Homo sapiens: one gene and its partners. The protein of the gene in region 2 purifies or fractionates together with the protein of the main gene of each other region. This does not show direct contact. Each region holds a gene or a part of one and is shown on either strand. Other genes may lie near its edges.

What was found.
Region 1: the proteins of RCC1 (region 2) and GLYR1 fractionate together in Homo sapiens (co-fractionation; one large-scale study listed by BioGRID). This does not show direct contact.
Region 3: the proteins of RCC1 (region 2) and RGPD3 purify together in Homo sapiens (affinity purification with mass spectrometry; 3 studies listed by BioGRID and IntAct, with this or other methods). This does not show direct contact.
Region 4: the proteins of RCC1 (region 2) and DLGAP5 purify together in Homo sapiens (affinity purification with mass spectrometry; 2 studies listed by BioGRID and IntAct, with this or other methods). This does not show direct contact.
Region 5: the proteins of RCC1 (region 2) and NUSAP1 purify together in Homo sapiens (affinity purification with mass spectrometry; 3 studies listed by BioGRID and IntAct, with this or other methods). This does not show direct contact.
Region 6: the proteins of RCC1 (region 2) and AP1S1 fractionate together in Homo sapiens (co-fractionation; one large-scale study listed by BioGRID). This does not show direct contact.
Region 7: the proteins of RCC1 (region 2) and RGPD5 purify together in Homo sapiens (affinity purification with mass spectrometry, with the first as the bait; 3 studies listed by BioGRID). This does not show direct contact.

Annotation. Positions count from the first base shown.
Region 1 is NC_000016.10:4,837,289-4,840,788, reverse strand, and holds part of GLYR1 (cytokine-like nuclear factor N-PAC), read left to right. Parts: exon of another isoform or gene 1-537; intron 538-1,109; exon of another isoform or gene 1,110-1,546; intron 1,547-3,500. UniProt on the Homo sapiens protein: Cytokine-like nuclear factor with chromatin gene reader activity involved in chromatin modification and regulation of gene expression. Acts as a nucleosome-destabilizing factor that is recruited to genes during transcriptional activation.
Region 2 is NC_000001.11:28,509,043-28,512,542, forward strand, and holds part of RCC1 (regulator of chromosome condensation), read left to right. Parts: exon of another isoform or gene 1-1,850; intron 1,851-3,500. UniProt on the Homo sapiens protein: Guanine-nucleotide releasing factor that promotes the exchange of Ran-bound GDP by GTP, and thereby plays an important role in RAN-mediated functions in nuclear import and mitosis.
Region 3 is NC_000002.12:106,406,160-106,409,413, forward strand, and holds part of RGPD3 (ranBP2-like and GRIP domain-containing protein 3), read right to left. Parts: intron 1-3,254.
Region 4 is NC_000014.9:55,185,086-55,188,585, reverse strand, and holds part of DLGAP5 (disks large-associated protein 5), read left to right. Parts: intron 1-3,500. UniProt on the Homo sapiens protein: Potential cell cycle regulator that may play a role in carcinogenesis of cancer cells. Mitotic phosphoprotein regulated by the ubiquitin-proteasome pathway.
Region 5 is NC_000015.10:41,374,381-41,377,880, forward strand, and holds part of NUSAP1 (nucleolar and spindle-associated protein 1), read left to right. Parts: intron 1-1,331; coding exon 1,332-1,448; intron 1,449-2,815; coding exon 2,816-2,924; intron 2,925-3,500. UniProt on the Homo sapiens protein: Microtubule-associated protein with the capacity to bundle and stabilize microtubules. May associate with chromosomes and promote the organization of mitotic spindle microtubules around them.
Region 6 is NC_000007.14:101,157,476-101,159,625, forward strand, and holds part of AP1S1 (AP-1 complex subunit sigma-1A), read left to right. Parts: coding exon 1-10; intron 11-1,583; coding exon 1,584-1,721; intron 1,722-1,997; exon of another isoform or gene 1,998-2,080; intron 2,081-2,150. UniProt on the Homo sapiens protein: Subunit of clathrin-associated adaptor protein complex 1 that plays a role in protein sorting in the late-Golgi/trans-Golgi network (TGN) and/or endosomes.
Region 7 is NC_000002.12:109,835,805-109,839,304, reverse strand, and holds part of RGPD5 (RANBP2-like and GRIP domain-containing protein 5/6), read right to left. Parts: intron 3,487-3,500; coding exon 1,263-3,486; intron 372-1,262; coding exon of another isoform or gene 268-371; exon of another isoform or gene 1-267.

The DNA of each region.
Region 1 (3,500 bases), on a different chromosome or scaffold from region 2:
ATTCAGGTACCGGTTCCACCTTGCTCCCTGATTTGGGCAAGCTATTTCACCTTTCTGAGCCTCTGTGTCCTCTACATAAGGGGATGATACCCCCTACCTCATAGTTAGGAAGGAAAAGTAGTATCTCTTGTGTAGAGTGTGGCTTGCCATACAGCAGGTATTAGCACACATTGGTCCAGGATGCCTTTAAGTATGGAAAACTGAGAGAGATGGAGACTCTCCCTATGGGAGAGAGAGAGAGTGTGTGTGTGTGTGTTTGTTTGAAAAGAAAGGAATATGAGAGTTGGAAGTTCCTAAAGGATGTCAGCCAGGTTTGCTCTTTTTACCAAAAAGGCTTTGAGTACAAAACCATGCATCATTCCACCTTTATGTAAAACTGTATGCGCCTCATCAGGAATACTCTATGGACTTCAGATCATGCTTTCAAAGGGATCTCTTAGAATTGGCCAAGATCCAGAAAAGGGAACTGAGTCAGACAAAAGAGCAGGACTCTTCAATGTGGAAAAGCAAAGACTGAAGGAATCACGGGATCAGGAGGTAGGAAACAGCGAATGGCCTAGAGGAGTTTGGCGATGGGCACTGCAAGTGGATTGTGGTATGACTGTGTTAGGACCAGGGTGAGGAGCACTGCATAAAAGGGGCGTTTAAGAGGTGGTGTAAACAGGTATTGCAAGGGGATTTTTTAGGGATGAGAACTAACTTGTGAAGACAAAGCCATAAGTGGCTCCTGTAGAAGCTGGACTGCACCTCGCCTTTAACACTTGACATCAGGGAGGGGGCATGTGGTCCAGGCACATCCTGGGTGGGGGCACCATTGGTTACTGGACCCTGGCCCAGGTGGATAGGGTCTGACCCAGTGGAGTGTCCTCCGTTCCTGAGAAATACAGGATTTGGTCAAAGATGTTCAGTTTCAAAATTGACACACTACTTAGGCAAAAAAAAGTGTAGTTATACTTTTTTAATATTTGCAAGGTCTTTTATTAAAGAGCAGAAAGAACGGCTCCTTATGACAAGATAATCAGTGATTACAATCTTTTAGAAACCTGATTTTTCTCTCTCCACATCTCTGCCAAAATATCTAACAAATTGTGTTGACATCCCACTGTTAGGAGAGGGCCAGACCTTCCTAATCAGGTGTCCTGGTGAGAGGAGGACTTCTTTATACGGATTCGGCTCCCTGAGCGAGATGGCCAAGACAAAACTGCCCACGTAATTTTTGTATTTTCATGGAAATACGAAGGGGATATAATTTCAGCAAAACCCTGCCAGCTTCACTTGGTGACTACAACCAAAGATTATGTGTCAAGTGCACGAGGGTCCCTCTCTGACAGGTCTGATTAGTGGTGACCCCCCCATCAGAGTAGAGACAGAGCTCACGGTTTAAAAGTTTCATCGGGGCCAGGCGTGATGGCTCACACCCGTAATCCCAACACTTCAAGAGGCAGAGGCAGAAGCATCACTCAAGCCTAAGAGTTCAAGGCCAGCCTGGGTAACATGGCAAGACCCATCTCTACAAAAAATTTAAAAATAAAAAATTTAAAGCTACCATGCCGGCTTGTTCTCACCTTTATACTCTATGCTTGTGTGTGTGTTTGTGTGTGTGTGTGTGCTTTTTCTCTGTCTGTCTCCCTCCCCCTGCCATCTTCTCCCCGCCCTTTCTCCTTTTCTCTTTCTCTTAGCTTCACGGCTTCAGCCCAGGTCACCTGTCTATCCGAAGGCTGAAACACAGGTGAGAGGGTTCATGCGTAGTAGCATGTACCTGTAGTCTCAGCTACTTGGGAGACTGAAGCAGAAGGATCGCTTGAGCCTGGGAGGTCAAGGCTACAGTGAACTGTGATTGAGGCACTGTATTCCAGCCTGGGTGACAGAGCAGGACCCTGTCTTTTAAAAAAGAAGAGTTTTGGCCAGGCACGGTGGCTCACATCTGTAATCCCAGAACTTTCAAAGGGCAAGTCAGGCGGATCACGAGGTCAGGAGATCAAGACCATGCTGGCTAACATGGTGAAACCCCGTCTCTCCTAAAAATACAAAAAAATTAGCTGGGCGTGGTGGCGGGCACCTGTAGTCCCAGCTACTCGGGTGGCTGAGGCAGGAGAATGGCGTGAACCCCAGAGGCAGAGCTTGCCGTAAGTCGAGATCGCGCCACTGCACTCCAGCCTGGGCAACAGAGTGAGACTCTGTCTCAAAAAAAAAAAAAGAAAAGTTTCATCAGTGGCTGTGGATGATGATGGAATGGAGGGAGTGTTCATTTAAATTACAGGTGCTTAGAAGCCACCAGAAACCAACCGGTTCAACAGATTGTGGACAAACAGTGGAGAAGCTGCAAGTGCCTACCTGCGAGTTTCCATAGCAGTCTTCCCCTCCAGTCCTCACAGCAGCCCTTTCAGGAAGTGCACAGGGTCATCTTTCTGGTTCTTATTTTTTCACAGATGAGGAAACTGAGAGACCAGTGGTCCTTTTCCACCAAGCCACATCTAAGGTGGACCGGTCTCGCTGGATGTGAGGTGTCTGAGTCAGTACTGAAAGTAGCTGCTCTAGAAGAATATGTGGTTAATAATTAGAAGCATAGCAGCTTGGAAGCATCCCTTTTTCGTTTCACCTGGCACCTGATTTGTGTGTGTTTTTTTCTGGTGCCTTTATTTCTGAAGAACTTGGCCTGTAACACCTCAGTAATCTTCAGCCCCTTTGGATGGATTTTTTTTAAAAAGGCACCCATAGAAATTGTTTACTAAGTATTCACCAAATCCAAATGGAGAAGCAAACCCACACCTTCTGGCCCCATCTTTGTTCTCACCTGTATTTTTATTCTTATCTTTATTTATTTATTTATTTATTTATTTATTTATTTATTTATTTTTTGAGATGGAGTCTCGCTCTGTCGCCAGGCTGGAATGCAGTGGCACGATCTTGGCTCACTGCAACCTCCGCCTCCTGGGTTCAAGCGATTATCCTGCCTCAGCCTCCGGAGTAGCTGGGATTACAGGCGCATGCCACCGCACCTAGCTAATTTTGTATTTTTAGTAGAGACAGGGTTTCACCGTGTTGGCCAGGGTGGTCTCAATCTCTTGACCTCGGCCTCCCAAAGTGCTAGGATTATAGGCGTGAGCTACCGTGCCGGCTTGTTCTCACCTTTATACTCTATGCTTGTGTGTGTGTGCTTTTTCTCTGTCTGTCTCCCTCCCCCTGCCATCTTCTCCCCGTCCTTTCTCCTTTTCTCTTTCTCTTAGCTTCACGGCTTCACCCCGGGTCACCTGTCTATGTGAAGGCTGAAACACATGTGACAGCGTTCAAGATTAGTCATAGGCTGACATCTTTAATATACAGTATCTACATGTATGATTTTCTTTTTTTTTTTTTAAAGACCAAGTCTTGCTCTGTCGCCCATGCTGGAGTGCAGTAGCACGATCTGCACTCACTACAACCTCCACCTCCCGGGTTCAAGCAGTTCCTGCCGCAGCCTCCTAAGTAGCTGGGATTACAGACGTGTGCTACCACAACTG
Region 2 (3,500 bases):
GGCTGCAACCTCAGCCTCCCAAGTAGCTGGGATTACAAACATAAGCCACCACGCCCAGCCCTCATACCTCTTTTAAAAGTCGACCTGTTTTGCAGAAAGTCTGCTGTTTTTGTACTAAAGGCTTTGGAATTTGGCATTTAGCTAGGAATGCACATTCTTTCACCTCATTCATACTTTAAGAACCACAGAAGTGACTCTGCTTGGCCAGAAGGCACACTGTGTTGGTGGTTATATTAAAAGTCCTTGAGTATTTTGCTTTTCATGATCTTGCTCACTGCAACTTCCGCCTCCCAGGTTCAGGCGATTCTCCTGCCTCAGCCTCCCAAGTAGCTGCGACTACAGGCGTGTAGCACCACACCTGGCTAATTTTTGTATTTTTAGTAGAGATGAGGTTTCACCATATTGGCCAGGCTGTTCTCAACTCCTGACCTCGTGATCCGCCCACCTCAGCCTCCTAAAGTGCTGGGATTACAGCTGTGAGCCACCCTGCCCGGCCACTTTTGTATGATTTCTAATGTATTTGTAATTTACCTAACAAATTGCCTAATCTGCTATGTTAATGTATTTATGAATTAAAATAAATACGACTGCATGTTTGTGGTTCATTTTTGTGGAGGTGGCTGTGGTGACATCAGCCAAGAATCTGAATGGTACTGTTGAAGGAAACTAGCATGATAGCTTCAGTTCTAAAGGCCCTGAAACCTAGTCTCAGGTGGGTCCCCCTTGGGTTCACTTTATATTGGCAGTTTATTGGGAAAATGGATATTAGGTCCTGACCAATAGGACCGTAAGTCTGGGTTGAGTGCAAGATGAGTTAGACCGATTCTTTAGCTTCCTGCAGTGTAGTGGAGGAAAAATCGATGGTAGCAACGGGAGGTTGTATCCCTAGCTGATGAGTTGTATGAGCCTCTACTACCTGGCGCACCTCCGCCTGAAGATTGCCAGAATTGCTTGCCTCATGACGTGAGTCACAATGGAAACTTTGTCAAGCCCCCTGCACTGGCTGCCAACATAAATGTTCAGTACCCTGAAGGATGGGACTGAAGGGGGATCATCTAGAAGGTAAAGTTACCTACTGGCATAGGGGAGGTGGGACAGCCGTTAAGCCATTTGGAACTTGATGGAGACAGGTTTGAGGGAGGTGGGTGAGATTGGAGTTTGGTGGACTGTAGAGCTTGCTTGCCAAGGTGTTGAGGTCAGGGTTGGTTTGAGAATGGAAGCTAGTTACTAGCTATGATTGTGGGGGAACACAGCTTGATTTTTCTTACAAGCTAAGAGGAGTGAGGCAGTGTTTAAGAGGGCATGTTAAATGCAGCCAGGCTTGGTGGCTCACACCCGTAATCCCAGCACTTAGGCTAAGGCAGGCGGATCACAACATCTAGAGATCCTGGCCAACGCGGTGAAACCCTGTCTGTACTAAAAATACAAAATAACTGGGCATGGTGGTGTGCACCTGTGGGAGGCTGAGGCAGAATTGCTGGAACCCGGGAGATGGAGGTTGTACTGAGCTGAGACCTTGCCACTGCGCTCCAGCCTGGTGACAGAGTTAAGTCTCAAAAAAAAGGCATCTTCCTAAAGCAATTGTATTTGTGCTTACCTGTGCCAGGCACTGTTCTAGGTAAGCACTAAGTGGGCTTTAATACAGCATATTCCAATGGGGAATCCCAGGAACCAAAAGACTAATTGTCCAAGTCCACAACTAGAAGTGGCACCTCTGCAGAAACAAGCATCAAATTCCCTGCTCAGGAAGAAGCCAGATGAGTCAGCCCCATTCGTCTGTATGCCCAGTCCCATCCGTGTCCTGCTGTAACTACATAGATCTCACCTGAGTAAAGTGATTTTTTTCTGAACCAGTGGTTTTAGTATGTTTTCAATCCATATACTCAGGTGGGTTTGGGTAACTGCAGTGCTGGGCAGGAAATGAATGAATTTCTATTGACTTGCAAGGTAGAGGTGAAGCAAAGCTGTCAGTAGGTGTTCAGGTCCCACTCTGCTAAACTTCAGCTTGCAATACCCCTTTTTTAGACTTTCCAAACAGGCACTTCTGGCCTTGTTCTTTGTGTAGGCAGACAGTATTGGTTGCCTATCTTAGGAGTACTAGACTGGGTTTGAATCCTGATCCCACCACTTGCTGTTCATGAGACTTTGGGTGAGTTACTCAGCCCCTCTGCCTCAATTTCATGTTCACAAAATAAGTGATAAACTACCTCATAGAGTTGTAATAAGGACAAAGGAGTTGGTATTTGTGAAAAGATTCTTAGGGTCTCTAGATGGAGTGCAGCAGCATGATCACTTATTAAATAACATTCTTTTGTGACTTCTCAGAAACCAAGGATACAGTATCCAATTTTTTGTTTTTTGTTTTTTTTTTTTTTTGAGAGGGAGTCTCGCTCTGTCGCCCAGGCTGGAGTGCAGTGGCACAATCTCAGCTCACTGCAAGCTCAGCCTCCCCAGCAGCTGGGACTACAGGTGCACGCCGCCACACCCGGCTAATTTTTTTGTATTTTTAGTAGAGAAGGGGTTTCACCATGTTAGCCAGGAAGGTCTCCATCTCCTGACCTCGTGATCCGCCCACCTCGGCCTCCCAAAGTGCTGGGTTTACAGGCGTCAGCCACCATGCCCAGCTTTTTTTTTTTTGAGATCTAATCTCACTCTGTCTCCAGGAGGGAGTGCAATGGAGCCATCTTGGCTTGCTGCAACCTCCACCTCCCGGGTTCCAGCAATTCTCCCACCTCAGCCTCCCAAGTAGCTGGGATTACAGGCGCACGCCACCATGCCCGGCTAATTTTTTTTGCATTTTTTAGTAGAGACGGGTTTCACCATGTTAGCCAGGCTGGTCTCGAACTCCTGACCTCAAGTGATCCACCTGCCTCAGCATCCCAAAGTGTTGGGATTACAGGCGTAAGCCACTGCGCCTAGCCTCAAGCCTGATCCTTTTTTTTTTTTTTTTTTTTGAGATGGAGTCTTTGCCTCCCAGGCTGGAGTGCAGTGGCGTGATCTCAGCTCACTGCTACCTCTGCTTCCTGGGTTCAAGCGATTCTCCTGCCTCAACCTCCCAAGTAGCTGGGATTACAAGCGCCTGCACCGCACCCGGCTAATTTTTGTGTTTTTTTTTTCAGTAGAGACAGGGTTTCGCCATGTTGGCCAGGCTGGTCTCAAAACTCCTGACCTCAGGTGATCCACCACGCCCGGCAGAGCCTTGATCTCTTAACCACTATCCTCACCTCCCCTTTCCCTAAGGATCCACAATGGCCTCACTGGCTCTTGAAGGCAGGCTGGCACCTTGATCATTCTTCCTGGTCATTAGTATTCTGATCTGGTTATTTTCCATTTTATGTCCATCTAACCTACTTGGAGGATCCTCAAGAGACTGCATATGTAAACTCAGTACTTATTCTTGTACTGTGCCTGCCATATAGCAAGCACTGGCTGATTTAATTTTTCTGTGTTCTTTTTTATTGATTTGTTTTTATCTTTATTATTTTCTTTGCTTATTTTGG
Region 3 (3,254 bases), on a different chromosome or scaffold from region 2:
TTTTAATCATTTAAAAATCATGTTTATTGAGGTACAACTTACTTATAGTAAAACCTGCCCTTTTCAGCGTATAGCACTGAGTCTTGACAAATGCACAGTTACGTACCACCACCAACCAAGGCCTGGCACATTTTCACCTCCTCAAAGTTCTCCCTGGCTGCTTCTCCCACTCCTTGGCAACCGCTAACCTGTTTTCTGTCCTTATAGTTCTGCTTTTTTCAGTGTCATATAAGTAGAATCACACTGTACATAGTATTTTGAGTCTGACCTCTGTCAACTGGCATAATGCATTTGAGAATTATCCATGTTGCTGTACTGGCAGTGCATTCTTTTTTATTGCTGAGCAGTATTCAATTGCATGGCTGTACCAGTTTGTTTATTCATTTGCCAGTTGAAGGATAACTGAGATCTTCCTCGTTTTTAGCAATTTTAAAGAAAGTTTCTACGAATAATTGTGTACAGGTTTTTAATTAAATGTTTTGGAGATATAATTCATATACCACATAATTCACCTTTTTAAAGTGCATAATTCACTGGTTTTTAATATATTCACAAGGTTTGTGCATAGGTTTTTGTGTGAATACTGGTTTTCATTCCTCTTGGATAAAGATTTAATTTGGTATTACCCTTCCAGACACCATTCTGTGTTTTCATACGTATATATGTATGACAGTTTGACCTTAGGCAGAGTAGCATTTTCAAACTTTTACATGGGGAAATTTTCTAGAGTTAAAGCCATTTTATTTTTCTGTTCTGTCTGGTTTTATCTGCGTGTTATTTACAATCTGCTGCGTAACAAATTACTACAAACTTAGTACCTTAACACATATTTATTTCACAGTTTCTGTGGGTCAGGAGATCAGAAATGGTTCTATTTCAAGGTCTCTCACAGGGCTGCAATCAAGATGTTGGCATGGCTGGGGTCTCATCTGAAGGCTGGACTGGAGAAGAATCTACTTCCAAACTTATGTGGTAGTTGGAAGAATTTAGTTCCTCAAGGCTGCTAAACTGATGGCCTGTGTTCCTTGCCTCTGGGATGGTAGCTTGCTTCAACAAAGTGTGCAAGCAGAGAAGACAGAGAGAGTCCGCTAGCAAGATAGAAGCCACAATCTCTTGTAATCTATCATTTTTGCTGTATTCTACTGGTTAAAAATAACTCATTAGGTTAGCCTACTGGCTCTCAAGGGGAAGAGATTATACAAAGGCATGAATTTCTGGAGGAGGCAATGAGGGCAAAGAACTCTGAAAAGTCTCTCTTCCACAATCTGAAGAACTTCTAGAAAGTAGAAGGAAGCGATATTGCTTAGGGATGGACAACTTGGCACTGGTTATGTGTTCCAAGTGAGGTAACCTTGTTCCCAGGAATAAAGAGAACCAGATGACTATAAACATTTCCCTAAACTGAAATGCACTGTTGTATGTTCACCTGCAATGAATGGTGTAAGCTGAATATAAGATTTTTGACAAAATAAAAATTTTGCTGTGTTCTCAGATCTGGCAGGCTCCTGCCCTTGTGCAAACAATGTTCCTGGCAACTATTCATCTCCTTAGGTAAATAAGAATTGGAGAAAAGCTGTGCTTAGATAGGGTGCATTTGCTCTTGCCTTGGAAGGCTGTTTTCTGATAAGGTTCTATATCCTCTGCAAATCAAATCAGGCACTTACAGTGTGAGTATGCATTCTCTTCCTGCCAGTCTGGAGATGATCAAAAAGCCTATAACAGGCTTGGCCTATTTTCCTATTGGGTTGCTGGGCTTTTTTTCTTTATTTACTTGTAGAGAGTTTTAGACCTCTGTGTATGTATGGTGTACAAGTGACAATATTCAGATCTGTAAACTGTAACCCAGTCTGGGAGCAAAGAAGATATAGAAAAATGACTTTTACTTCCGGCTTGAGTAGTAAAATTGAGATTCAAATTTTGCATATAGAAGTACTATATGGCTAACTTATTTGGGGAGCAAAGCTGACTTACCATAAGTCTATCTCAAATAGAAATGAAACACTCAATTTGTGAAATATGCTGAGTTTTAATGCGTGTGGGGGCAGGGTGAATTAACATTTGTGATGCAAGGAGAAGAGCAATCTATACTTACCACTGTCTATTTGACATTGTTTGGGGACTACTGCTACACTCTAAGTCATTTTACCTTATAACGCAGAGTTGTAACACGCTACTCTGAGCAGCTCATGACATCTGCTTGAAATTTAAGTTGGGCCCCTAGTATGTGTTTATTATAAAGATTTTGATGCTGCTTTTCAGAGTTGGGTAACCTACTTTACCCCCTAAGCTAATGTTTCCCAAATACACCCAAACCCACAGAAAGGAAAACTATTCCTCATTAACTCACAGCCAACATCATAAACATTTTATATCTAGAGCTGATGATACAGTCAGGTATTTACCAACACTCATGTATATATGTAGAGTGTCAAGAAATAATTGCTTATCCTTAGTAGATTCAACATTAGCCTTACTAGATTCAACATATTCTAATGTTTCACATATTATTTTTATTTCTTAATTTTTTTTTAAAGATGGGGTTTTACTCTGTTGCCCAGGCTGAAATGCAGTGGCGTGACCAGGATTTCGACCAGAAGTTTGACTGCAGCCTCGAACCCCTTATAACAAAGAATCCTGCTGCCTTAGCCTCCCGAGTAGCTAGGACTATGGGCACATGCCACCAGAACGGGCATATTTTAAAATTTTTGTAGACATAGGGTCTCGCCATGTTGCCCAGGCTGATTCTGAACTCCTGTTCTCAAGCAATCCTCCTGCCTGGTCTTCTCAAACTGTTGGGCTTACAGGTGTGAGTCACTGAGCCCAGCTTGTATTCTTTTGATTTTAAAAAAATATTCTGAATGTGATCCACCAAATTAATTTCACCATCCACTAATAGGTAGCAACCTGAATGAAAAATACTATTATAAACTTTACACAAAACCAGAGATTATAAACATTTGCTTCCAAGGACATGAGAGAGGTAAAAGGTACTTGTTTGCTCTGATGGGCCCTGTTTCCTTCAGTGCCAGGAAGAGTGGCTCTCAGACCTTTCTTCTAGCATCCCTCATGTATGCAGTGTTGGTTATTATTTTCAAGGCCTTGGTAACAAAATGCCCCTAGTGTGACCAGTCAGACTGACAGTCCATATCTGTAATATGGTGGTAAGTTTCCTTTGCATGTCTTTCTTTCTGGCATCTTAGACCTTTTACCTAGGAAATTTTCTTTTTGCTTGAAGTACATCATTAAGAATTTTC
Region 4 (3,500 bases), on a different chromosome or scaffold from region 2:
AAGCCTTTACCTGTGGAGTATTATAACACTTTATTATCTATATTGCTTCATAGAAATCCTAAAGTTCTTACGGAGCTTGGGTAGGATAAGTGTTGACAAGATAAATTGATAAGAAATGTAAAAATAGAATAATTAAAGAATCCATGAAATGAGAGTACTTTGTCAATGGAAACATTAGTAAGAAAAGAGCAAAGAATTCATCCTTGCAGTTTGCCCAGAAGGATTGGGACCATTAGGATGGAAAGAACCAACTAAAGAAGAAAGGAATAATCTCAGAAAAAGATGAAAATAGAGCATCTTAGAAGGCAAAGGATGCTACAGAAAAGAGAAAGCAAACTGAGAAATGACTTGTGTTTAGTCAGGAGTCACCCTACTCCTATTTGTTGTGTTCATATAGCAGGCGTTAGGAGCTAGATGGCATTGAAATAATGCTAGGATAAATAGGGAATGGCAGAAAGAACCAAACATTTTTTATCTGAGAAAGGGTGGTTCCTTTCTCATCTTGTCCTCTCAAATGCTCCATTTCTTAACCAAAAATCTTTCAAATTAAAGTCTAACTATCTCAGTATGCTATTAAAATATCCTTTATTTCCCGTTTGCAAAGGCTTAGAGGTAGGAGTGTGCCTGATATGTTTTAGTGAATGCAAGTAGGTAACTGGGTAGAAAAGAATGAGCAAGGGAGATAGATTACATAGAATCCTAAGGACCATCATTATAAGGACATTGGCTTTTACTCTGAAATGAGAGGCCATTAATGGGTGTTTATGTAATCTGATTCATGTTTTAAAAGGATCGCTTTGGAGTCAGGCCTGTAGCCCTAGCTACTCCAGAGGCTGAGGCAGGAAATCTTGAGCTCAGGAGTTTGAAGCTTCAGTGTGCTACAATGGTGCCTGTGAAAAGTCACTGCACTCTGGCCTCGGCCACACATGGAGATCCTGTCTCCTAAAAAAAAAAAAAAGAAAAGGATCAGGTCGGGCACAGTGGCTCATGCCTGTAATCCCAGCACTTTGGGAGGCCAAGGCGGGTGGATGGCGAGGTCAAGAGTTCGAAACCAGCCTGACCAACATGGTGAAACCCCATCTCTACTAAAAATAAAAAAATTAGCTGGGTGTGGTGACACACACCTGTAATCCCACCTACTCAGGAGGCCGAGGCAGGAGAATCGCTTGAACCCAGGAGGTGGACGTTGCAGTTAGCTGAGATCACGCTATTGTACTCCAGCCTGGGCAACAGAGCGAGACTCCATCTCAAAAAAAAAAAAAAAAAAGGATCACTTTGGCTGCTGTGTTGAGAATAGATTATAGGGTGGTATGTATGACATCAGGGAGAGCAGTAAGTAGACTACTGCAATAACTTAGTTGATACTAAAGTATTAAAAGACAAGGGGCCAGATGCGGTGGCTCATACCTATAATCCCAGTACCCCAGGCTAAGGTGAGTGGATCACGAGGTCAAGAGATCAAGACCATTCTGGCCAACATGGTGAAACCCCATCTCTACTAAAAATACAAAAATCAGCTGGGTGTGGCGCGTGCCTGTAGTCCCAGCTACTTGGGCGGCTGAGGCAGGAGAATCACCTGAACCCAGGAGGTGGAGGTTGCAGTGAGCCAATCACACCACTGCACTCCAGCCTGGGCAACAAAGTGAGACTCCGTCTCAAAAAAAAGACAAGGGAAAACTAGTAAAGAACCAAGGAACAATGCAAAGTAATGTAAGAGGATAACCAGAAGAACGTGCTATCCTAGAAACCGAGTAGAAAAGTGCATATCGAGGAGAGACTGATTAACTATGTTAGTCAGTACTGCTTGTTAGATCAAGTATAATAGAGGTGAGAATTTGGACTTCACCACTGTGGAGGTCACTGGTGATCTTGAATAGTTTTGGTGGAGTGAGGTTCAGGGAGTGAAAGATTGGAATGGATGAGTATAATCAAACCCTTAGATATAATTTGTAGTCTGTAGAAAACATGGAGCCTGGAGGAATGAGTAAATAAACAAATACAGCTTGCAAAGACATTCAATAGGAAAACTGACTACCTTTTGTCAGTAAGACAATGGCATGAAAAGAAGAGTGGGGAGGAGGATCTGTTTTAGATGAAGAGATTTAAAAAGACATTCAAATAAAACGTGTTGCTCTTACTTGGTTCTTGATTTAAGTAAACAGATGGTTTAAAAGACCTCTTTGAAACAAATAGAGACGTTTAAATCTGGACCCTGTAATAGATAACAAGGAATTACTGCTGATTTTGTTAAGTGTGATGATGATATCGTGGCTATGAAAGGAAATGTCTTTATTTTATTTTATTTTTATTTTTTGAGACGGAGTTTTGCTCTTCTTGCCCAGGCTGGAGTGCAATGGCACGATCTCGGCTCACCGCAACCTCTGCCTCCCGGGTTCAAGTGATTCTCCTGCCTCAGCCTTCCTGAGTAGCTGGGATTACAGGCATGCACCACCACGCCTGGCTAATTTTGTATTTTTAGTAGAGACAGGGTTTCTCCATGTTGGTCAGGCTGGTCTCAAACTCCCAACCTCAGATGAACCGCCCACCTCAGTCTCCCAAAGTGCTAGGAGTACAGGCGTGAGCTATCGCACCCTTCCAGAAATGTCTTTATTTTTTAGAAGTATATACTAAAGTATTTAGAGATGAAATCTTCTAAGCATAATTTGTTTTAAACAACTGCAGCAAAATGTTCATAATTATTGAATCTTGGTAATAGGTATATGGGGTTCATTATAATTGTGTGTATATTAGAAGTTTTTCATAATTTTGAAAAGAGAGGGAATGTAAAGAGTGTTGGAAATAGGCTGGGCTTGGTGGCTCACACCTGTAATTCCAGCACTTTGGGATGCCAAGGTGGGTGGATCACCTGAGGTCAGGAGTTCAAGACCAGCCTGTCCAACATGGTGAAACCCCATCTCTACTCAAAATACAAAAATTAGCCAGGCGCAGTGGCGCATGCCTGTAATCCTAGCTACTAGGGAGGCTGAGGCAGAATTGCTTGAACTCAGGAGGTGGAGGTTGCAGTGAGCCAAGATTGCGCCACTGCACTCCAACCTGGGCGACAGAGTGAGACTCTGTCTCAAAAAAGGCCAGGCGTGGTGGCTCACACCTGTACTCCCAGCACTTTGGGAGGCCGAGGTGGGTGAATCATGAGGTCAGGAGTTCGAGACCACCCTGGCCAAAATGGTGAAACTCCGTCTCTACTAAAAATGCAAAAAATTAGCTGGGCATGGTGGTGGGCGCCTGTAATCCCAGCTACTCGGGAGGCTGAGGCAGTAGAATCGCTTGAACCCGGGAGGCCGAGGATGCATTGAGCCGAGATCACGCCGCTGCATTCCAGCCAAGGCGACAGTGCGAGACTCTGCCTCAAATAAATAAATAAATAAAAGTGTTGATAGTAGAGATACAGGTAACTCTCTTGAAGAATTTTGCCTTAAATGGGACTAGAAAAATAAGTGCTAGATGAGGATGTAGGTTGGGAGAAATTACCGCATGCTTGT
Region 5 (3,500 bases), on a different chromosome or scaffold from region 2:
AGAAAATTCTATGGGGTCCCTATATAAGGCCCTGAATCCCATTCATGACCTATTTACCTCCCAAAGGCCCTACTTCCTTACACCAGTCATATTGACAGTTAGGATTTCAATATGAATTTGGGATCGCAGGAGATACAAACATTCAAGCTATAACTTTTTTCTTTTTTTGAGACACAGTCTCACTGTCGCCAGGCTGGAGTGCTGTGGTGCAATCTCGGCTCGCTGCAACCTCCGACTCCCTGGTTCAAGGGATTCTCCTGCCTCAGCTTCCTGAGTAGCTGGGATTTTGGGCACACGCTGCCACGCCTAGCTAATTTTTGTATTTTAGTAGACACGGAGTTTCACTATGTTGGCCAGGATGGTCTCGCTCTCTTGACCTCATGATCCACCTGCCTCGGCCTCCCAAAGTGCTGGGATTACAGTCGTGAGCCACTGCACCCAGCTTCTTTTTTTTCTTTGTTTGTTTCTTTTGTTTTTTTGAGATGGAGTCCCACCCTGTTGCCCAGGCTGGAGTGCAATGGCGCAATCTTGGCTCACTGCAAGCTCCACCTCCCGGGTTCAAGTGATTCTCCTACCTCAGCCTCCCGAGTAGCTGGGATTACAGGCACGTGCCACCACACCTAGCTAATTTTTTTTTTTTCCCTCTCTGAGATGGAGTCTTGCTCTGTCACCAGGCTGGAGTGCAGTGGCACGATGTTGGCTCACTGCAACCTCTGCTTCCCGGATTTAAGCAATTCCCCTGCCTCAGCCTACTCGGCATGGGACTACAGGCATGCACCACCACGCCCAGCTAATTTTTTTTTTTTTTTTTTTTTAAACCAAGTTTCGCTCTTGTTGCCCAAGCTGGAGTGCAATGGCGCAATCTCAGCTCACCACAACCTCCGCCTTCCGGGTTCAAGCAATTCTCCTGCCTCAGCCTCCCGAGTAGCTGGGATTACAGGCATGTGCCACCACCCTGGCTAATTTTGTATTTTTAGTAGAGATGGGGTTTCTCCGTGTTGGTCAGGCTGGTCTTGAACTCCTGACCTCAGGTGATCCACCCGACTCGGCCTCTCAAAGTGCTGAGATTACAGGTGTGAGCCACCACACCTCTAGATAATTTTTTGTATTTTTGTGGAGACAGGGTTTCACCATGTTGGTCAGGATGGTCTTGATCTCCTGACCTCGTGATCCGCCCACCTCGGCCTCCCAAAGTGCTGGGATTACAGGTGTGGGCCACCATGCCCAGCCTATAACGTGTATTTTTAAGATTGAGAAGTAACACTTTGATAAACACTTTACCAGGTCTTTGTTTCTAATTAAGCTCTTGGGTTTTTTCGGTGTGTTTTTAGTTATTACCCCATTCAAGTTGACAACTGAGGCAACGCAGACTCCAGTCTCCAATAAGAAACCAGTGTTTGATCTTAAAGCAAGTTTGTCTCGTCCCCTCAACTATGAACCACACAAAGGTATGTGGGAGTGTTTTGAGCTACAGGGCCTGTAAAATACTTAAGATTGGTGGGACGCAGTGGCTCACACCTACTAAACATACAAAAATTAGCCAGGCGTGGTGGCAGGCACCTGTAATCCCAGATACTTAGGATGCTGAGACAGGAGAATCACTTGAACCTGTTAGGTGGAGGTTGCAGTGAGCCGAGACCGTGCCACTGCACTCCAGCCTGGGCAACAAGAGTGAAACTCCATCTAAAAAATAAAAATAAAAAATAAAAACTTAAGAATAAACAAATTCTGCGGCCGGGCGCAGTGGCTCTGGCCTGTAATCCCAGCACTTTTGGGAGGCTGAGGTGGGCAGATCACTTGAGGTCAGGAGTTCGAGATCAGCCTGGCCAACATGGTGAAACCCCGTCTCTTCTGAAAAAAAATAAGAAAATTAGCCTGGCGTGGTGGCGGCGCCTGTAATCCCAGCTACTTGGGAGGCTGAGGCAGGACAATCGCTTGAACCTAGGAGGCAGAGGTTGCAGTGAGCCGAGATTGCACCACTACACTCCAGCCTGGGTGACATAGTGAGACCACGCCTCAAAAACAGGCTGGGCGCGGTGGCTCACGCCTGTAATCCCAGCACTTTGGGAGGCCAAGGCAGGCGGATCATGAGTTCAGGAGATCGAGACCATCCTGGCTAACACATTGAAACCCCGTCTCTACCAAAAATACAAAAACAAAATTAGCTGGGCATGGTGGCGGGCGCCTGTAGTCTCAACTACTCGGGAGGCTGAGGTGGGAGAATGGTGTGAACCCAGGAGGTGAAGCTTGCAGTGAGCCGAGACCACACCACTGCACTCCAGCCTGGGCGACAGAACGAGACTCTGTCTAAAAAATTTAAAAAATAATAATAATTAAATTTAAATTAAAAAAAAAAGCAACACATAAACTTCAAGAAATTTGGTCCCAGTTCTTTTTGTAAAATTGCAAATTGGTTGGACACAGTGGCTCATGCCTGTAATCCCAGCACTTTGGGAGGCCAAGGCAGGCAGATTGCTTGAGAACAGGAGCTCAAGACCAGCATGGGCAACATGATGAAACCCCGTCTCTACTAAAAAATACAAAAATTACCCGGGCATGGTGGCATGTGCATGTAGTCCCAGCTACTCATGAGTCTAAATTGGGAGGATCACTTGAGCCCAGGAGGCGGAGGTTGCTGTGAGCTGAGATCAGATCACACCACTGCACTCCAAACTGAGCGACAGAGTGAGATTCTGTCTCAAAGAAAAAAAAAGTATAAATGTTGATAGCAGGTAACCCCACAGATGAAGAGAATGAAGTTGGGAATATAAATCAAACAATCTTTTTAAAATTCTTTGTCTCTGTCCTAAACTAGGAAAGCTAAAACCATGGGGGCAATCTAAAGAAAATAATTATCTAAATCAACATGTCAACAGAATTAACTTCTACAAGAAAACTTACAAACAACCCCATCTCCAGACAAAGTAAGTACATAATTATCCAGCTTTATAATTATTTTAATTTCAAAAGCAGCACCTCTGAGGGATAGGGGCTCAGTAATAGTGGTGTTTTAAGAGGAGGTTAGAAGTGGTATTATGGCCGTGTGCGGTGGCTCACGCCTGTAATCCCAGCACTTTGGGAGGCCGAGGTGGGCGGAACACGAGGTCAGGAGATCGAAACCATCCTGGCTAACACGGTGAAACCCCGTCTCTACTAAAAATACAAAAAATTAGCTGGGCATGGTGGCGGGCGCCTGTAGTTCCAGCTACTCGGGAGGCTGAGGCAGGAGAATGGCGTGAACCCAGGAGGCAGAGCTTGCAGTGAGCCGAGATCGCGCCACTGCACTCTAGCCTGCGTGACAGAGCCAGGCGCCGTCTCAAAAAAAAAAAAAGTGGTATCATGGGCCAGGCACGGTGGCTCACGCCTGTAATCCCAGCACTTTGGGAGGCCGAGGGGGGCAGATCACGAGGTCAGATCGAGACCATCCTGGCTAACGCATTGAAACCCCATCTCTACTAAAAATACAAAAAATTAGCCGGGCGTGGTGGCGGGCGCCTGTA
Region 6 (2,150 bases), on a different chromosome or scaffold from region 2:
CTTTGGCAGTGTAAGTCTCCTCTGCCCACCAGTTTCCATTCCCAGCAATCCCCTTTGGTAATCCACCAAACTTTGAGGCCCCTCCAGTCTCTGCCCTGGAAGTTTCAGGGGAGAGGTGAAGTTGGAGCAGTAAGAACAGTAATTAATTTCCCTTTTTAAGCTTTAAGCCTATTAACCATGTCCCATAATCGTCCCTGAGTGGGGAAACTGGGGGCAGGATCAGGCACTTAATCTCCACTTAGAGCTTAGCTCGGACTTTTCACACAGAGACCAAGTTCAGATGTTTTGATTAGTTCAAATTTTTATTTTTTTAGAGACACAGTCTCACCCTATCACCTGGAGGAATGCCGCCTATGGCTGGAGTGCAGTGGCACAATCGTAGCTCACTGCAGCCTTAACCTCTGGGCTCAAGCCATCCTCCTGCCTCAGTCCCCTGAGGAGGTGGGACTGCAGGTGCACACCACTATGCCCAGCTAATTTTTGTATTTTTTTTTTTAAGAGATGAGGTCTTGCTATGTTGCCCAGGCTGGGTCTCTAACTCTGGGGCTCAAGTGATCCTCCCACCTCAGCCTCCCAAAGTCTGGGATTATAGGCGTGAGCCACTGTACCCAGCCCCATATTCAGATTTTTATCACTGGTTGCTGATCTTGGATTTGCATTGGAGTTTTCTGGAGAATTTTTTTGAATGGCAATGTCCAGGTTCCACTCCCAGAGATTCTGAATTAACTTATCTGAGGGACAGCTCAGATCTTAGATGGGGCGTAGTAGTAACTCCATAATTTGTGTTATAAAGTGCTTTTGCGTCCTCTCGTTTGCTCCTTATCCCATCCTAGCAGTAGGTGTTGGTATCCCCATTTTTGAGGCCAGAAAACTGAGACTTAGAGATGTTTCATGACTTGTTTAGCTAGATGGTTAGTGGCAGAGCCCTGCTTGGAACTCAAGTCTTCCACCCCATGGTCCAGAATTCCCTCTTTCCCTGCCCCACAGTGTCCAGGAAGCGGGGCTACCACAGCCTTTGGTGGGAAGAACGTCACAGATTTTGGGGGGAAGGCAAGGGGAACCATAGACAAAGGTAGATAAGGCAACTAATGTTTCATGATCAGGAGGAAAGATGCAAGAGGAAGAGGGAAAAAAACTGATCCAAGGCAAGGCGCGGTGGCTCACGCCTGTGATCCCAGCATTTTGGGAAGCTGAGGCAGGTGGGTCACTTGAGGCCAGAAGTTCGAGACCAGCCTGGCCAACATGGCAAGACCCTATCTCTACAAAATATTTTAAAAATGAGGTGGGCGTGATAGCATGCACCTGTAGTCCCAGCTACTCAGGAAGCTGAGGCAGGAGGATCACTTGAGCCCAGGAGTTTGAGGCTGCAGTGAGCTGTGATCATGCCACTGCACTGCAGCCTGGACGACAGAGCAAGAGACCCTGTCTCTAACAAAATAACGAAACAAAAAAACTGAAAAAGCTGACCAATGACTAAGGCTTGGAGGTTGGGGGCAGAACCCAAGGTGGGAGGCACGGTCTTGAAAAGGAAGTGGCTCCAGTTGCCCCTCCATGCTCAACTTAGCCTCTCCCCGCCCTCCCAGGTGTGCGAGCTGGACATCATCTTCAACTTTGAGAAGGCCTACTTCATCCTGGATGAGTTTTTGATGGGGGGGGATGTCCAGGACACCTCCAAGAAGAGTGTGCTGAAAGCCATCGAGCAGGCTGACCTACTGCAAGAGGTACGGGCCAGGGACAGTGAGGAGGAGGAGGAAGCGCACAGTGGCGGACAGGGTCCTCCCTCCCCTGGACACCCGGCCTGCCCTGCCCACCGTCGCCAAGGAGCCCCCCCTCCCTGTGGTATCTGACCCCCACCACGCCCAGCTCTCCAGCTTACTCTCAAGCCCTGACCCCATGGGGTGGGAGGTAGGGTGGCAGATAGCCCACCTGTGCACCCCTCATTCCAAGCTCTGTCCTTCTCCCAAGCCCCCAGATGTCTCGTGGCCACCCAGTCTCCTTTGTCCAATTCTCTGAGCAAGGCTTAACACCAAAGGGTTAAGGGTTTGCTCTGGAGTTAAGGGTTGCTTGGAGAATTGGAGAAGGGGCACCTGGTAGGTCATTCTTTTCTTCCCTGATTTCTTCCCCCACCTCTCTTTTTTTTTTCTTTTTTT
Region 7 (3,500 bases), on a different chromosome or scaffold from region 2:
TAGTGGCTAAAGATAAACATTAGATAAAACATAGGTCTTCATTGAGCAGACCTGAAATAGCAGAGCAATGAAGTACATTACAAATCAGCATCCCACTACATTTTAAAAAACAAACCAACAAGGGTGTCATGCCACCAGTCAAAAGGTACTTTGCTTAAACTGGCATTCTTTAACATGCATGTTGTAGTGGTAAGTACTTCATTTCATACAGCCACAGTAATTAATACTTTGCTAAGGGCTACCCAGCTGCTAAAAACTGCTGTTATCTCATACTGAGAATGCTAGTTCTATACCTTTGCTCTCAGGCTGTGAGGAAGGGGTGCTAGTCCAAAAGGCCATGGGATTAGATTTAAAAAGGCTAAAATTAAATCCTAGAAAATAAAGAATATTTCATTTTTTAACATTTTAGGAAACAAAATGAATATGCTTTTAAAACATAAAAAGCCAGAATCCCTCAATTTATACCACCAATCTGACTGTCTTACATATTCATTTATCCCTGTAGTTTCATTCTTTGCTCATTTAATACATGAGCAAGACTGACATACAACACATAAAATGAGAACATCTCAATATCATGTTTTTTTTTGTTTTTTGTTTTTTGTTTTTTTTGGAGACAAAGTCTCACTCAGTCACTCAGTCAGGCTGGAGTGCAGTGGCATGATTTCAGCTCACTGCTACCTCCATCTCCTGTGCTCAAGCGATCCTCCTGCCTCAACCTCCTGAGTAGCTGCTAATTATAGGCACGCACCACCATGCCCGGCTCATTTTTGTATTTTCAGTAGAAACAGGGTTTCACCATGTTGGCCAGGCTGGTCTCGAACTCCTGAGCTCAAGTGATCTGCCCACCTCAACCTCCCAAAGTGCTGGCATTCTAGGAGTGAGCCACCGTGCCCAGCCTCAATATCATGTTTTCTGAGTGACAAAAGAAACAGAACAAATGAAAATGAACACTTTAAAAAAAGACTCACGTTAATGCGCATGATTCAAGCATGAGTCCGTACACTGTACCAAGTTCTTTTGCTCTGCCCTAGCATGATAGAAGTATCTTCCAGTTACTGAAATGTCTTTAACTAAGTTCTCTTGCTCTTTGAAACCTCACCGTGAACTTATTAAGGGAGAAAAAAAATTGCTCAAATATTTTGGGGGTGTTCACAAAGCATCGTTTATATCCCAACATTAGTATCCCACAAAGAGTCTGCATCAAGCTAAACATTAAAAGAAAGAAAAATTGTGCTTAACTTTAACAACAAAGTACCTACCCTTTTCTGGTGTTTTAAATGTGTAGTTGATTGAAGATTCTTCCGTTGGAAAGGAAGCAGAGAGATTTTTGACTTTGCTATCTGAAGACTGTTCGATATCAGAGTTCTTTGACAGTTCACATTTTTTAGGTTCCACTTTGCTTTCAGATCCACTCTGGGCTACTGAACTAGTTTCACTATTGTTACTTTTCAAAGGTGCATTAAAACTAAATCCAAACAAAGACCCAGTGGCAGAACTGTTGCCAAATACAAATGGTTTTGATTTTTCACTACTAAAAATTCTTTTAACAGACTCTGAAACAAATACAAACTTTGGAGGAGAAACCACTGCTTTTGTTGTTGTTTCAGATGTGCTAGACACTTCAACTTCTGAAGCTGCATCTGCTACATCATCACCCTGAATAACATCTGTCCTCTCTCTTGTGGTTTCTTCTAATATAGCTACAGCAATTTTGCCACATGGTGACTCTCTGGGAGTGCTTGACCGAGAAACATGAGGTGTTATCAAAGAATCTTTTTCCTGGGCTGTTTTTGCTTCATCAAAAATTTTCTTAAACGAGTCTGCAACATCCTGTAGTTTAAAACGAACAGCTAAATGCTCTACTTTTCTTTCTCCATCTGCAAAATCACATGCAGTCCACACCCATACTCTTTCTGTCCCTTTCATATTTTGCAAACTCATGTCTGGAGTTATTCTGTGATTGGCACAAAGTTTTAATACTTGGTCCCTTCTCATCACTATACGAACTTGCTTATTATCATAATTCTGTAAAATCTTTATATCACCAATGCCCCTTTCTTTCCATTGACCAACATCTTTATCATATCTGTAGATTTCTGCCCTGTGACTAAAAACAACTTGTTCATTTTCCTCACCACTGGATACTTCAACTAGATCAGGTAAAGGAACAACAGGTTCAAAGTACTGTCCATCTCTCTCTTCTTCTTGAGTAACAACAGATTCTTCATCAGTGCCAACTGAAGTCCCACTCTGATTCAACTTGGCAGGAGACTTAGATAGACTCAAAGCAGATTTAAAACTGAAGTTAGATCCTGTTGTTGACTCATCAAAGCGGAAAAGATTTTTTCTCACAGGGCTACTTGCCAATGGAGAAGCATGTACTGAGCTACTACTGACACTATCATCCAAAGCATCTTCCCTTAAGTCATAGTTATCCCATTCTAATGTGGGCCCAGTGTTTTCAGCATTGGGTTTTATTGTTGTGTCTGAGGCACCGGCCGCACCTGTACCTGAACCCTTATTTTCTTCCTCAGTGACTTTTGTTTGATCATTTGTCAAAAATGTTTTGAAATCTTTCAGTCCACTCTTCATTTCTTCAGCTCTCTGTATTAACTTGGCAGCTCTGCCAGTATCTACAAGTTTATGGGGAGTTTGAAGTGGTATGTCTAACAGAAGCCGCTGGCATTCCTCAAATTTCTGCTTGAATTCTTCAGCCAGCTCTGGTGTTTTAAATTTTGCTGCCAACCGCTCTAGTTTGGCATCACCGTCAGAGAAATCACTGGCTGACCACATCCATGCTCTATCTGATCCAGAGAGGGGCTTCAGGTTCATTGTAGTCGTTATCCAATGATTAGCACACACTTTTAGTACTTGTTCTCTTCGCATCAGCATTCTTAGTTTGCCATTGACCTCGTTTTTGAGAATTTTTAAGTTCCCCAAGCCCCTTTCTTTCCACTGCCTTACCTCAGCATCAAATCTAAATAGTTTTACCCCCTGTGAATACAGAACTTTTTCACCTTCTTCTCCTGTTACAAGTTCTACTTTTTCAGGCATTTGAACTACTGGTTCAAAATGGATGTCATCGCTGTCCTCAGTCTTATAGGCATCATCATCTTTCTCAAAGTCACCGGAAGTGTTTGCTTTATTGGCCATTTTACCGTATCGTGATGAGAATAATTTTTCTCCAGCACCTGAAAATCCCTTGAAATTGAGGTCTTTTTTGCCAAACTGAAATCCTTCTCCTGAAGTTGATTTTGCAACATCTGCAAATGTAAAAGTGCTACTTGTTTGGCCAAAAATCACACCACGGCCCTTCTTCCGGCCACTAATATCCTGAGCCTGGAAGCCAGTATCATTTTCAAGAGGCTTTTCCCTTTTCTTTTCTTGATTTCCTGGTTCCGAAATGCCAAATTTAAATCCATCAGCAGACACAGGGATGGAAAATCCTTCTTTGGTTGACTTAAATTCTGTATTAGAAGAACCCTGAAACATAAATG